2 separate regions of the Homo sapiens genome follow, and region 1 is linked to region 2. Evidence: fine-mapped expression QTL. Tissue or cell type: whole blood. Region 2 holds a variant in brackets; the other region holds the start of a gene. All regions are shown on one strand. Distances are between the middles of the regions.

What was found. PIP is the estimated chance that this variant, and not a neighbour inherited with it, causes the effect.
Region 1: it holds the start of SORD, and the variant in region 2 is fine-mapped to the expression of SORD in whole blood (INTERVAL, PIP 0.99).

Annotation. Positions count from the first base shown.
Region 1 is chr15:45,019,126-45,027,301 of GRCh38, forward strand. SORD (sorbitol dehydrogenase) reads left to right here and starts at 4,070. Exons shown (of 9, transcript NM_003104.6): 1 at 4,070-4,224. The coding sequence starts at 4,159. RefSeq lists silencers at 3,850-4,019, 6,583-6,871 and an enhancer at 4,789-5,439.
Region 2 is chr15:44,991,564-44,999,749 of GRCh38, forward strand. No RefSeq gene overlaps it. Among named protein-coding and RNA genes, the nearest start is that of SORD, 28 kb to the right of the region's middle. The variant C/T (reference allele first, on the strand shown) is at 4,268.

The sequences.
Region 1 (8,176 bases), 28 kb after region 2:
TTTGATGTTAGCTGGTTATTTTGCCCATTATTTAATGCATTTTCTTCCTAGCATTGATGGTCTTTAAAATTTGGCATGTTTTTGCAGTGGCTGGTACTGGTTGTTGCTTTCCATGTTTAGTGTTTCCTTCAGGAGCTCTTGTAAGGGAGGCCTGGTGGTGACAAAACCTCTCAGCATTTGCTTGTCTGTAAAGTATTTTATTTCTCCTTCACTTATGATGCTTAGTTTGGCTGAATATGAAATTCTGGGTTGAAAATTCTTTTCTTGAAGAATGTTGAATATTGGCCCCCACTCTCTTCTGGCTTGTAGAGTTTCTGCTGAGAGATCCAGTGCTAGTCTGAGGGGCTTCCCTTTGTGGGTAATCCGACCTTTCTCTCTGGCTGCGCTTAACATTTTTTCCTTCATTTCAACCTTGGTGAATCTGGCAATTGTGTGTCTCGGGGTTGCTCTTCTTGAGGAGTATCTTTGTGGTGTTCTCTGTATTTCCTTAATTTGAATGTTGGCCTGTCTTGCTAGGTTGTGGAAGTTCTCCTGGATAATATCCTGAAGAGTGTTTTCCAACTTGTTTCCATTCTCCCTGTCACTTTCAGGTACACCAATCAAATGTAGATTTGGTCTTTTCACATAGTCCCATATTTCTCGGAGGCTTTGTTCATTTCTTTTTACTCTTTTTTCTCTAAACTTCTCCTCTCACTTTATTTCATTAATTTGATCTTCAATCACTGATATCCTTTCTTCCATTTGAATGAATTGGCTGTTGAAGCTTGTGCATGCATCACATAGTTCTTGTGCCATGGTTTTCAGCTCCATCAGGTCATTTAAGGTCTTCTCTACACTATTTATTCCAGTTAGCCATTCGTCTAATCTTTTTTCAAGGTTTTTAGCTTCTTTGCGATGGGTTTGAACATCCTCCTTTAGCTGGGAGAAGTATGTTATTACCAACCTTCTGAAGCCTACTTCTCTCAGCTCATCAAAGTCATTCTCCGTCCACCTTTGGTCCGTTGCTGATGAGGAGCTGTGATCTTTTGGAGGAGAAGAGGCACTCTGGATTTTAGAATTTTCCGTTTTTCTGCTCTGGTTTCTCCCCATCTTCGTGGTTTTATCTACCTTTGATGCTGGTGACCTACAGATGGGGTTTTGGTGTGGATGTCCTTTTTGTTGATGTTGATGCTATTCCTATTTGCTAGTTTTCCTTCTAAGAGTCAGGTCCCTCAGCTGCAGATCTGTTGGAGTTTGCGGGAGGTCAACTCCAAACCCTGTTTACCTGAGTATTACCAGTGGAGGCTGCAGAACAGCAAATATTGCAGAAGAGCAAATGTTGCTGCCTGATCCTTCCTCTGGAAGCTTCGTCCCACAGGGGCACCCGCCTGTATGAGGTGTCAGTTGGCCCCTACTGGGAAGTGTCTCCCAGTTAGGCTACATGGGGGCCAGGGACCCACTTGAGGAGGCAGTCTGTCCATTCTCAGAGCTCAAACACTGTACTGGGAGAGCCACTGCTCTCTTCAGAGCTGTCAGACAGGGACGTTTAAGTCTGCAGAAGTTTCTGCTGTCTTTTGTTCACCTATGCCCTGCCCCCAGAGGTGAGGTCTACAGAGGCAGCAGACCTTGCAGAGCTGCGGTGGGCTCTGCCCAGTTCAACCTTCCCGGCTGCTTTGTTTACCTACTCAAGCCTCAGCAATGGCGGACGCCCCTCCCCTGCCAGGCTGCTGCCTCAGACTGCTGTGCTAGTAGTGAGCAAGGCTCTGTGGGCGTGGGACCCACTGAGCCAGGCACAGGATTTAATCTCCTGGTGTGCCATTTGCTAAGACCGTTGGAAAAGTGCAGTATTTGGGTGAGAGTGTCCTGATTTTCCAGGTACAGTCTGTCACAGCTTTCCTTGGCTAGGAAAGGGAAATCCCCCAACCGCTTGCGCTTCCCGGGTGAGGCAATGCCCCTCCCTGCTTCGGCTCACCCTCCATGGGCTGCAGCCACTGTCCAACCAGTCCCAATGAGATGAACCAGGTACCTCAGTTGGAAATGCAGAAATCACCGTCTTCTGCATCGATCACACTGGGAGCTGCAGACCGGAGCTGTTCCTATTTGGCCATCTTGGAACGGAATCTGGATGATTTACTTTTGGCTACCAATTTGGAAGCCTCATGCCAGCAGGCTACTCTAGATCTCTTGAACTTTCTAGGTAATCAAGCGGGCAAGGTGTCTAAACTGAAAGCCCAGCTCTGCCTACAACAAGTCAAATATCTAGGCCTAATCTTAGCCAGAGGAACCAGGGCCCTCAGCAAGGAACAAATACAGCCTATACTGGCACCGGTCCCTCAAGGCGTAGCACCAACCAGATTGATAAACTCACTTATCTGACCTTGTGGCCCTCGCCCAGAAACTGACTCAGTCCAAGAAGACAGCTTAGATCCCCTATGATTTCATCTCTGACCCAAACAATCAGCACTCCTGACTCACTGGCCTTTCCCCACCCATCAAACTATCCTTAAAAACTCTGAGTCCCCGTATGCTCGAATGCTTGGGGAGCCGGATTTGAGCAATAATGAAATTCCAGTCTCCTGCATAGCTGGTTCTGCATGAACTCTTTCCCTATTGCAGTTCCCCTGTCTTGATAAATTAGTTTTGTCTAGGCAGCAGGCAAGGTGAATCCATTGGGCGGTTACATATTGGGGAGGGGGGACTGTAAGGGAATGAAATCCTGAGCATTATCCTCAAAGGAGGGAGGGGCCTTATAGACTTAGGCCTATCTAGAAGCGCCTCTCTCCTCAGAGAGTAAAACCTCACTGTTTCTCAGAGGGCTGAGAGGCTTGAAGGAAGAGTTTGGGCAGAAACTCTGCTTTGAATAGAAGCAGCAGATCCAGTTGAGAGAAAGAGGTTCACAAATTCCATTTCATGGCTTTTTTTTTTTTAAAGACAGATTTTCACTCTTGTTGCCCAGGCTGGTGTTGAATGGCATGATCTCAGCTCACTGCAACCTCTGCTTCCCAGGTTCAAGCTATTCTCCTGTCTCAGCCTCCCGAGTAGCTGAGATTAAGGCGCATGCCACCATGCCCGGCTAATTTTTGTATTTTTAGTAGAGACGGGGTTTTCACCATATTGGTCAGGCTGGTCTCGAACTCCTGACCTCAGGTGATCCACCTGCCTCGGCTTCCCAAAGTGCTGGGATTACAGGCAAGAGCCACTGCGCCCGGCCTCATGTCTTTTTTATACTTAAGCACCAGGCCCATGTAATGATGCACGAATTCATTTACTCCTACTCGTGCCAGGCCCTTTCCTGGGGGCTGGAGACAAAGGGCCGACGTGGACGCTGCGTCATGGTAGCACCTGTCTCGCAAAGTGCACACCGTGCTCCACCCACAGCCTCAGCATTCTCGTTGCTAGGAATATGGACCCTCAGGCAGCACCTCAGACCTAGACCTACTGTATCAGAATCTCTGTGCTGGTCCTGAGAATGTGCATTCTCAACAGCGCCTCACATTCCCCACCCCAATTCTTCTGCAGCTAACGTTTGAGAGCGCTGGTCTGGTGCCTACTGCCTCTGCAGGCGGTTTTCAAGGCAGCCGTGTGTGCTTGCATGTGAGGCGGCAAAAACAGCGCGCTGCAGGGCCGGCGCGGTGGCTCACGCCTGTAATCCCAGCACTTTGGGAGGCGGAGGCGGGTGGATCACGAGGTCAGGATATCGAGACCATCCTGGCTAACACGGTGAAACCCCGTCTCTACTAAACAAAAATACGTGGTGGTGGGCGCCTGTAGTCCCAGCTATTCGGGAGGCTGAGGCAGGAGAATGGCTTGAACCCGGGAGGCAGAGCTTGCAGTGAGCCGGGATCGCACCACTGTACTCCAGCCTCGGCGACAAACAAACAAACAAACAAAAAAAACAGCGCGCTGCAGATGGAGCCAGCACCCGGGCTTCTCGCTCCCAGCCCCCTCCCGAAGCCCCGCCCCGCCTCCGGGTCTGGAGGAGGCTGGGAAGCCCCGCCCCTCCACGCTAGCGCCGCCCAGGCTGGCACAAAGGAGGAAGCCTAGTCCCGCCCCTGCGTGCGGCGCTTCTCCCAGGCCCCACCTTCCATCCAGTGCCCTGGACCCTCGGCTGGGTAGCGCCACCAGAGCGACCAAACGTCCCGCGCCTTCCAGGCCGCACTCCAGAGCCAAAAGAGCTCCATGGCGGCGGCGGCCAAGCCCAACAACCTTTCCCTGGTGGTGCACGGACCGGGGGACTTGCGCCTGGTAAGCTGGGAAGGAGGGTGGGAAGCATACCGATCCTGCCTCACTCTCCTCTGAGCCCAGCCATAGTCCTGGCTTCCCACTTCCAGCCTGGCGCCGGCCCCGCACCTTAAGCGCCCTGGCTGCCCAGATCCCAGCTGGTTCCCCTCGGGGTGTGGGGGCAGCAGGTAGTGGCTGTTGCGAAGGGCAGGGATCTAGTCGTGTGCCTCCCGGAACCTAGCCCCGTGGCTGGCACGTGGCCGGTGCCCAGGACGGTTGCAAACTGTTTGAATGAAGCTTTCTCTCTCCTTTGCCAGCTGCAGATTCATAGTCCAGCCTCTTGTCATTGACCTTTCCAAAGGAAATGCTAAGGCTGTCTGAATTATCGGGGCAGACCGTGCAGAGCAGAGAAAGGGGGGCCAGAGGACACTTAGAAACAGCAGAACTTGTATTTAACTCCCTTGCTTGGGACTGATAAACCTCCCTTGCAGGATTATGATGATCACAAGAGTACTCAGCACTTAGTACGTGCTCAGGAAGTGCCAGCTCCTTCTCCTTTCCTTCCAGTCTAGGCCTCCATCTCCAGAACCCCTGCTGTTCCCCTTGCCTGTGCCAGACTTGTGGATCTTGATAGCTCCCTTGTCTGTAAGGATCCTTCTCTCCCTAAGACCCTGTCTGGTTCACTTTCCAGCAGTTTTTCTTTCCAATCCCGTGCCTCTGTCCCTTTAGGAGCATTCTGTATGTGTGTCCTCTGCCTTAGACCCTGCCTTTTGCTCCCTGGCTTGTGGCACCAAAGTTTAGGAAGTGGCTGAGTCAGCAGCCTAGTCATGCCAAGCCTCCCTTGACAAAGTCCCTCTCAGATGGGCCTGGGATGGCAGTGGGTATGTGGGATGAGTGCCAGCCATCTCTGCTGCTCCCCTGTACCTCTTTTCCCTCAAAGTACATGCGTCAGTATGTAAACTGCAGTAATTCAGAAGCTTATCCAGGTTAGCAGTTCTTGACTATTTAAGAATCTGTGGTGTCCCCTCCACAGAATGCAAATAGACTGAGTTTGGCAACAATTTCAGACTGCTCAAGGACTCCCTTTAAGCCGCTCTAAGCCCCTCTATAGAACCCTTGTCCCAGCTGACTCTCCATCTCCTCAGTTGAAGAAAGTACCATACCCAAGGTGATAGGTTTTGTTAGTTAACAGAGCCACGACAAGGACTCAGATGTTCAGACTCCCCATTCTAGTGCTCATTCCACTCTTTGGAGCCTCCACCCAAGGTCCTGAATTAAAGTGAGGCTGTTAGTGTTTACTGTTGCAAATGCCAGATGGTATTATGAGTAAGGGAAAGTGGTCCAGCTCTACCCAGCTTGCAGAGTGATTTCCAACTCAGTACTTCATTCCACAAACATTCACTCATGAAAGGGTGCCTGCCATGTGCCAGGCACTGGGCTGAGGGCCCAGAAAGGAGGACACAGCCCCTGCTCCCAAGTTTACTGAGGGAGGCAGACAGATAAAGTCAACAATTATGACAGAGCCCGAGGGCTTTGATGGAGGCCTCAGAGAGAAAAGACGCCACAGGGAGGGGCCCTTGGCCCTCTATCTGCTCAGAGCCTGCTTAAAAGTCATGCACCTAAGGTGCAGAAACACAGTTAAGTTCTCCTTCATCTTACCTCAAACTCATGGTCTTCCACTGCTCAGGCAGACTACCTCTACTATGGTTCCGTAGACAAAGCTTTGAAGATTAGAGCAGCAGCGAACTAACCTTGATCTCATCAGCTTTGCATTAGAACCCACTCTCTGACTGGATTAGGGGCTAGGTTGGGGTGGCTGTAACCTGAAGTATCTAGAAAATATGATGGGCTAGAGAATTTCACCTTTGGTTGTGTGCTGGAACACTAGCTGGGTAAAAGAGTTCAGAGGAGGATTTAGGAAAACACCTAGGCTCAGTTTGAGAATGGGAAGTGGTAGCGTCATTTACTAGTCAGAGTAGATTAAAATGATGAGATCAGGTTTGAAAAGTTGAGTTTAAGATGTCTCTGGAGGCCAGGTGTGGTGGCTGATGCCTGTAATCCCAGCACTTTGAAAGGCCAAGGTAGGCAGATCGCTTGAGGTCTGGAGTTTGAGACCAACCTGGCCAACACGGTGAAACTGTCTCTACTATAAATACAAAAATTAGCTGGGTGTGGTGCCACATGCCTGTAATCCCAGCTACTTGGGAAGCTGAGAATCGCTTGAGTCTGGGAGTCAGAGATTGCAATGAACTGAGATCGTACCACTGCACTCCAGCCTGAATGACAGCAAAACTATGTCAAAAAAAAAAAAAAAAAAAAGATGTCTCTGGGACAGGACACAAGGTGCCTTTGAGAAATTTCCTTGGGTGCAGGGGTCTGGAGTGCAGGGATACTATCAGGGGTGGAAATGTAAACTCAGGAGTCCTTTGCTCCTCTACTGAGCAGTACTGCACTGCCCCGCCACCCAGGAGACATTTGGAAATGTGTCAGGGAGGCTTGGTTGTCACGATGACTGAGGAGCACTACTGCGGACTTTATTCAGTTCATAGTGCTATCTTGCACAACAAAGAGTTGTCCTGTCCCAAATAGTGCCCTATGGGGAATTATGGATGGCTGAGCTTGCCTGGGCTGAGTGAACCATGTAGAGTGAGAAGGAAAGAAGAGGAGGACATTACCCTGGAGAGAGCCCCAACACTGGAGGGGAAAGGGCAGAAAGAGTTGTCAGCAGAGGAGACCCACTGTGCTGCCTCAGGTGCACCTGCAGCTCAACACAGACCTTCTGGGCCCTCGCCACTCCTTCTCAGGCATGGTCTTCCACCAGCACCTCCACAGTGCCCAACCCAGACCCCGAGTGTGGTATCACTGCTCCTCCATCTTTTCCTTAAGACAAATAGGCTCAGTGGCTTGGGTTTGGGGTCAGTAGTAAACCAGAGATAGCAACTAGGAGGAACAATCCTGGGGAAGCTTTGAGGGGAACCACCCATTTTCCTCTCTGCAAGAGGACCAAAATGAAACCCAGAATTTCCTGGGCTTAATAAATTGTCAGCAAATGCATTTTGGGGGGAAAAAAGCCTTGGTTGGATATGAACTACAAAAAAGATAAGAGGAAGTGGGGAGAATTTGACTGTTTTCTTCTTTTGATGTAAGACCACCAGCCACAGATTAAAAACCCTTCCATTTCTGGCTGGCTGGGGAACTGCAGCCCAGCAAACTGTGGCCGATTTAGGTATACAGGGGGGCAGGGTCTACTGATAAAATGGTTCAGTGCCTCAGGAACTCCTATGAAGGGAGTTGTTTGGGGAAACTCTCATTCCTAAGATCTTTTCAAAAAATGTATAAATTTTCAAGGGAAAAGTGTATCATTTAACTTACATCATTATTTGCTTTCCAAAAAGTGTATAAATCATTCCTAAAATCTGAAGCAGGTTTCCAAAGCATTCTGAAGCAGGAAGCAATGTCTCAACCTTTCCCACTGCTGCCATCCTACTTGAGATAAGGCCAGGAACCAGCCAGCGTCTGGGGCAGTGGTTCTGTGGGGGAATGCGACCTTAGTCCACTTTACTTGTCCTTTAACTGGCAGGAAGGAAACCTACCACACAGCCTCCCTACTGCCTAAGGAGACTGCACCATTCTCTTCTTTCTTGATGTATGGCTGCACGGAACAAAAAATTAAACTCCTCACCTACTAATTAGTTAATGATCACCTTGACCACAGCAAGGAGGAGCATTTATAAATTGGGTGGTAAGTCAGACACACACTAAGACCAGTGGTTTTCTTTTATAGTTAGGAGAACAAAACGAAACAACAATCTGAGACTTAAGGATTTTCGCTTTTCCCTTCATTTTGAATAGAGAAAGTTTGAGAGTTGGAGGGAGGAAAAGGGACTGATGACCAAGTTGATGTATAAAGAAGCAAACAGTGTCAGCTTGCTGGGGTTCTCTCTAAATGGAAATAGTACGAAGTTCCCAAACCAGG
Region 2 (8,186 bases):
AGAGTGAAAAGAAATGAACAAAGCCTCCAAGAAATATGGGACTTGTGAAAAGACCAAATCTACATTTGATTTGTGTACCTGAAAGTGATAGGGAGAATGGAAACAAGTTGGAAAATACTCTTCAGAATATTATCCAGGAGAACTTCCACAACCTAGCAAGGTAGGCCAACATTCAAATTAAGGAAATACAGAGAACGCCACAAAGATACTCCTTGAGGAGAGCAACACCAAGACACACAATTGTCAGACTTACCAAGGTTGAAATGAAGGAAAAAATGTTAAGGGCAGCCAGAGAGAAAGATCAGGTTACCCACAAAGGGAAGCCCATCAGACTAACAGCAGATCTCTCGGCAGAAACTCTACAAGCCAGAAGAGAGTGGGGGCCGATATTCAACATTCTTCGAGAAAAGAATTTTCAACCCAGAATTTCATATTCAGCCAAACTAAGCTTCATAAGTGAAGGAGAAATAAAATCCTTTACAGACAAATAAATGCTGAGAGGTTTTGTCACCACCAGGCCTCCCTTTATAAGAGCTCCTGAAGGAAATAGTAAACATGGAAAGCAACAACCAGTACCAGCCACTGCAAAAACATGCCAAATTTTAAAGACCATCAATGCTAGGAAGAAACTGCATCAATTAACAGGCAAAATAACCAGCTAACATCATAATGACAGGATCAAATTCACACATAACAATATTAACCTTAAATGTAAATGGCCTAAATGACCCAATTAAAAGACACAGACTGACAAATTGGATAAAGAGTCAAGACTCATCAGTGTGCTGTATTCAGGAGACCCATCTCACATGCAGAAATGCACATCAGCTCAAAATAAAGGGATGGAGGAAGATCTACCAAGTAAATGGAAAGCAAAAAAAAAAAAAAAAAAAAAAAGCAGGGGTTGCAATCCTAGTCTCTGATAAAACAGACTTTAAATCAACAAAGATCAAAAGAGACAAAGAAGGCCATTACATAATGGTAAAGGGATCAATTCAAAAAGAAGAGCTAACTATCCTAAATATATATGCACCCAATACAGGAGCACCCAGATTCATAAAGCAAGTCCTTAGAGACCTACAAATAGACTTAGACTCCCACACAATAATGGGAGACATTAACACCCCACTGTCAATGTTAGACAGATCAACGAGACAGAAGGCTAACAAGGATATCCAGGACTTGAACTCAGCTCTGCACCAAGCGGACCTAATAGACATCTACAGAACTCTCCACCCCAAATCAACAGAATATACATTCTTCTCACCATCACATCACACTTATTCCACAATTGACCACATAATTAGAAGTAAAGCCCTCCTCAGCAAATGTAAAAGAACAGAAATCACAACAAACTGTCTCTCAGACCACAGTGCAAACAAATTAGAACTCAGGATTAAGAAACTCACTCAAAACTGGAAAACTACATGGAAACTGAACAACCTGCTCCTGAATTACTGGGTAAATAACGAAATGAAGGTAGAAATAAAGATGTTCTTTGAAACCAATAAGAGCAAAGACACAATGTACCAGAATCTCTGGGATACATTTAAAGCAGTGTGTGAGGGAAATTTATAGCATGAAATGCCCACAACAGAAAGCAGGAAAGATCTAAATTCAATACCCTATCATCACAATGGAAAGAACTAGAGAAGCAAGAGTAAACATATTCAAAAGCTAACAGAAGGCAAGAAATAACTAAGATCAGAGCAGAACTGAAGGAGATAGAGACACAAAAACCCTTCAAAAAAATCAATGAATCCAGGAGCTGGTTTTTTGAAAAGATCAACAAAATAGATAGACCACTAGCAAGACTAATAAGAAATGAGAGAAGGATCAAATAGCCACAATAAAAAATGATTTGCATTCCTCTGATGACCAGTGATGATGAGCATTTTTTCATGTGTCTGTTGGCTGCATAAATGTCTTCTTTTGAGAAGTGTCTGTTCATATCCTTTGCCCACTTTTTGATGGGGTTGTTTGTTTTTTTTCTTGTACATTTGTGTAAGTTCTTTGTAGACCCTGGATATTAGCCCTTTGTCAGATGGGTAGATTGCAAAAATTTTCTCCCATTCTGTAGGTTGCCTATTCACTCTGATGACAGTGTCTTTTGCTGTGCAGAAGCTCTTTAGTTTAAAATCCCATAGAAATACAAAGTACCATCAGAGAATACTATAAACACCTCTATGCAAATAAACTAGAAAATCTAGAAGAAATGAATAAGTTCCTGGACACATACACCTTCCCAAGACTAAACCAGGAAGAAATTGAATCTCTGAATAGACCAATAACTGGTTCTGAAATTGAGGCAATAATTAATAGCCTACCAACCAAAAAATCGTCCAGGACCAGACGGATTCACAGCCAAATTCTACCAGAGGTACAAAGAGGAGCTGGTACCATTCCTTCTGAAACTAATCCAAACAATACAAAAAGAGGAAATCCTCCCTAACTCATTTTATGAGGCCAGCATCATCCTGATACCAAAGCCTGGCAGAGACACAACTAAAAAAGAGAAATTTAGACCAATACACCTGATGAACATCGATGCAAAAATCCTCAATAAAATACTGGCAAACTGAATCCAGCAGCACATCAAAAAGCTTATCCACCACGATCAAGTAAGCTTCATCCCTGGGATGCAAGGCTGGTTCAACATATGCAAATCAATAAATATAATCCATCACATAAACAGAACCAATGATAAAAACCACATGATTATCTCAATAGATGCAGAAAAGGCTTTTGACAAAATTCAACAGCACTTCATGCTAAAAACTCTCAATAAACTAGGTATTGATGGAATGTACCTCAAAATAATAAGAGCTAGTTATGACAAACCCACAGCCAATATCATACTAAATAGGCAACAAATGGAAGCATTCCCTTTGAAAACCAGCACAAGACAAGGATGCCCTCTCTCACCACTCCTATTCAACATAGTGTTGGAAGTTCTGGCCAGGGCAATCAGGCAAGAGAAAGAAATAAAGGGTATTCAATTAGGAAAAGAGGAAGTCAAATTGTCCCTGTTTGCAGACGACATGATTGTATATTTAAAAAAACTCCATTGTCTCAGCCCAAAAACTCCTTAAGCTGATAAGCAACTTCAGCAAAGTCTCAGGATACAAAATCAATGTGCAAAAATCACAAGCATTCCTATACGCCAATAGCAGACAAGCAGAGAGCCAAATCATGAGGGAACTCCCATTCCTGATTGCTACAAAGAGAATAAAATACCTACGAACCCAACTTACAAGGGATGTGAAGGACCTCTTCAAGGAGAACCATAAACCACTGCTCAATGAAATAAAAGAGGACACAAACAAATGGAAGAACATTCCATGCTCATGGGTAGGAAGAATCAATATCGTGAAAATGGCCCTACTGCCCAAGGTAATTTATAGATTCAGTGCCATCCCCATCAAGCTACCAATGACTTTCTTCACAGAATTGCAAAAAACTACTTTAAAGTTCATATGGAACCAAAAAAGGGCCTGCATAGCCAAGATAATCCTAAGCAAAAAGAACAAAGCATGAGGCATCATGCTACCTGACTTCAAACTACACTACAAGGCTACAGTAACCAAAACAACATGGTACTGGTACCAAAACAAATATATAGACCAATGGAACAGAACAGTGGCCTTAGAAATAACACCACACATCTACAACCATCTGATCTTTGAGAAACCTGACAAAAACAAGCAATGGGGAAATGATTCCCTATGAATAAATGGTGCTGGGAAAACTCGCTAGCCAAATGTAGAAAGCTGAAACTGGATCCCTTCCTTACACCTTATTCAAAAATTAACTCAAAATGGATTAAAGACTTAAATGTAAGACCTAAAACCATAAAAACTGTAGAAGAAAACCTAGGCAATACCATTCAGGACATAGGCATGGGCAACAACTTCATGACTAAAACAACAAAAGCAATGTTAACAAAAGTCAAAATAGACAAATGGGGTCTAGTTAAACTAAAGAGCTTCTGCACAGCAAAAGAAACTGTCATCAGAGTGAACAGGCAACCTACAGAATGGGAGAAAATTTTTGCAATCTACCCATCTGACAAAGGGCTAATATCCAGAATCTACAAAGAACTTAAACAAATGTACAAGAAAAAAACAAACAACCCCATCAAAGAGCGGGCAAAAGATATGAACAGACACTTCTCAAAAGAAGACATTTATGCAGCCAACAGACACATGAAAAAATGCTCATCATCACTGGTCATCAGAGAAATGCAAATCAAAACCACAGTGAGATA[C/T]CATCTCCAACAGTTAGAATGGTGATCATTTAAAAGTCAGGAAACAACAGATGCTGGAGAGGATATGGAGAAACAGGAACACTTTTACACTGTTGGTGGGAGTGTAAATTAGTTCAGCCATTGTGGAAGACAGTGTGGCGATTCCATGGAATACAATGCAGCCATAAAAAGAGTGAGTTCATGTCCTTTGGAGGGACATGGATGAAGCTGGAAACCATCATTCTCAGCAAACTATCACAAGGACAGAAAACCAAACACCTCATGTTCTCACTCATAGGTGGGAGTTGAACAATGAGAACACATGGACACAGGGCAGGGAACATCACACACCGGGGCCTGTCAGGGCTTGGGAGGCTGGGGGAGGGATAGCATTAGGAGAAATACCTAATGTAAATGACAAGTTGTTGGGTGCAGCACACCAACATGGCACATGTATACCTGTGTAACAAACCTGCACATTGTGCACATGTACCCTAGAATTTAAAGTGTAATAGAAAATAAAAAGGAAGAAAGAGAAACAAAATGAAGCAAAAAAAACTTATAACCATTGCTTTCTTCTAATTTACAATTGTAAAGATTTCTGATTTATTTTGTTTTGGATCCCTTGTGTACAGCATAGATTTGAATTTTGCTTTATGATTTAATCCAAATTTACTTTATTTTATTTTACTTTCAATTTTTATTATTTTTTAAATAAAAAATAGAGATGGGGTCTCACTGTGTTGCCCAGGCTGGTCATGAACTCCTGGGCTCAAACGATCCTCCTGCCTAAGCCACCCAAAGTGCTAGGATCACAGGTGTGGGTCACCAAGACTGGCTGAAATTTATTTTATTTTAATACATTAGTTTAGCACATTTAGATTTATCAAATTGAAATACTTGGTATTAATTATTAATACAATATATATAACTTTATATGATGTCTTCTATTATTTAATAGATCCTTTAAAAATTCTGATGTTATGGTATGTATTTGGTTTTATTTTTTCTGAAAATCTGAAAAGGTTATATTTTTATTTCAGTGATGGTCTTTATAATGTATTTACTTAATCTTCCTCTCTTAGGCACTATCTATCAATCCCCTGATATGAATAAACAATGAAATTAGAATATTTTCTCATCTTCTCCCTATCCTGCTCTTGATGACCTCTCTTTTTGCCATAGTTTTCCCATTTATTTCTTGGTTGAAGTTCATCTTCTAGTAGTTTATTCAAGGAAAGCTCATGGAAACAATATTTCTTGAGATCCTGCCATGTTTAGAAATGTCTCATTGTGCCTTTTTATATAAACAGACAGAGATAAACACAACAGAATATGTCGAGAATTGACTCAGAAGTATGCCATGTGATGCTACCTTGAAGTCAGAATAACCTGCATTATAGCTGAAATAAACTTTAAATTACTATTCCTTTTTACCTTCCTCCCTTCCTCTCTCTCTCTGTCTCTCTCTCTCTCTCTCCTTCTCCACTCACTGCAGCCTCCACCTCCTGGGTTCGAGTGATTCTCCTGCCTCAGCCACCCAAGTAGCTGGGATTACGGGCATGTGCCACCACACCTGACTAATTTTTGTATTTTTGTATTTATTTTTTATTTTATTTTTTTGTAGAGACAGGGTTTCACCATGTTGCCCAGGTTGGTCTTGAACTCCTGAGCTCAACCGATCTGCCTGCCTTGGCCTCCCAAAGTGCTGGGATTCTAGGTGTGAGCCACTGTGCCTAGCCGCTTTTTTAGTTTCTAATCCAGCTGCTCCCATATCAGACCTCATCTTTTTAAATTTTATTTTCTGTTTACCTCCCTCCATTCATTCACATGCTCATTTGAGAAGACTTAAGTTCTCCCAGCTTTGGACAATAACTGCTTTTAAAAACTGTAAGGTTTCAAGAGAACGGTTGCCCAAGACTGATAATTGTTTTACAAATGGAGCATGTGTATTATGCGGCCAGTGTCTTCACTCTAACTTGGTTATAAGACTGAAACCATTCTTCACTGCTCTAACATGCTGAATAAATCAACTGAGGGGGAGGAGGTGTTTATCCCTGTCTGTTTATATATGTTATATGCGTTGTCATGAGGCTGTGTGACTTATCTAAGTGGAATATTGAATATCCATTGAAATGGATTTGTTAAGTCATTTATATTATTAATGAGCATTTAAATGCAACAGATATCATTTCAGGTGACTTCACATGAATGAATAAAAGTCAGTGCTATTCCATTATTTTTTGCTTGAAAAAAATAGACTTTGTACATCAGAGTGAACTCCTCACCCTAGAGAAGTATAATTTTCTAGCTTTTGCCTTAAGGTCTTCAGCCATAGGCCTTCTCACTACCTTTCTTCTTGCACCCTGGCATTTCCTACAGTGTAAAACACTGGAGGATCTATGTGAACCCCTGGGTTGGGTCACTTGCTAGGCTCTAGTTGCTGTTGTTGTTTTTGTTGTTTTGTGCCACTCTCTCCTTGTTCACTGTGATTCTGCCACACTGCTGACTTTTCATGATGGTCTCGCCCTCTTGGACTCCACGTTTGTGGTTCCTTCTGCCTGGAACACACAATCTCCCTCCCTAGCCTCACTGCTGTCACAACTCAAGTCTCTCAAGTACAGCTTTATCTATCACTCCCTCAGGGCAAACTTCCCTTGCTTTCAAGCTAGACTAGGTTCCTCTGCTACACACTTTCATGGTTTTCTTTTCTTTTCCTTCATAGCCCTTACCATAATTGTGTTTGAGTCATTACTTCTATGATTATCTGCTTAATGGCTTCTCCTCCCCTAAGTGGGGATTGTGTCTGTCAGATTCATTGTATCCCCAGCACCGTGTACCAGCATGTCACAGACACTTATTACATAGTTGCTGAATAAATGGATGAATGATCCCGTCCCAATATGGCTCCCACTCCCATCTTTCCACCAAAACTCCGTTTGCATGATTACCAATTACCTCCTTGTTGCTGAATCCACTAGATATTCTTTGGTTTCCATCTTGACTTCTTATCAGTATTAAACACTTGAACACTTTTTTCTTAAAACAATGCTTTTTGTGCCTTCACTTATTCTCAGGATCCTTTGCTGTTTCCTCTTCATTTTTCCTAGTTCCTTGATGTTTGATGCTCAGAGCTTGGACCTGAGCTATGTCCTTTTTCAAATTGTGTGTTCAGTCTCTAGATTATCTTCTTCTCACTTACTGCTCTCAATAGTCTATATACCAATGACTTCCAAATTTCATCTAGACCTTCAAGCCTAGACTTTCCCAGTCTCCTACATAGCACGTGCCCTATATTGTTTGGTCATTTCACCTGGATGTCTGCTATAGGCATCTGCTATAATTTAGATGTTTGTCCCCCAACACCTCATGTTGAAATTTGATTCCCATGTTGAAGGTAGGGCCTAATGGGAGGTGTTTGTGCCATGGGCATAGACGACACATGAATAGATTAATGCCCTCCCTCTGGGGTTGGGGAAGTGAGAGTGAGTGAGTGAATTGTTGCTCTGTTAGTTCCCACCAAAGCTGTTTGTTAAAAAGAGCCTGGCACCCCTCTACTCTCTCTTGCTTCCTCTCTCACCATGTACTCTCTGCACACCTTGGCTCCTCTTTACCTTCACGATGAGTAGAAACAGCCTGAAGCCCTCACCAGAAGCAGATGCTGGTGCCATGCTTATCACACAGCCTGCAGAACTGTGAGCCACATAAACCTCTTCTTTATAAATTACTCAGCCTCAGGTATTCCTTTATAGCAACACAAAACAGATGAAGACAGAAAATTAATACTGAGGAGTGGGTGTTGCTATAAAGATACTTGAAAATGTGGAAATGGCTTTGGACTAGTTAATGGGCAGAGGTTGGAAGAGTTTGGAGGGCTCAGAAGGAGAAAAAAGACTAGGAAAAGTTAGGAACTTCTTACATATTGGTTAAATAGTTGTGA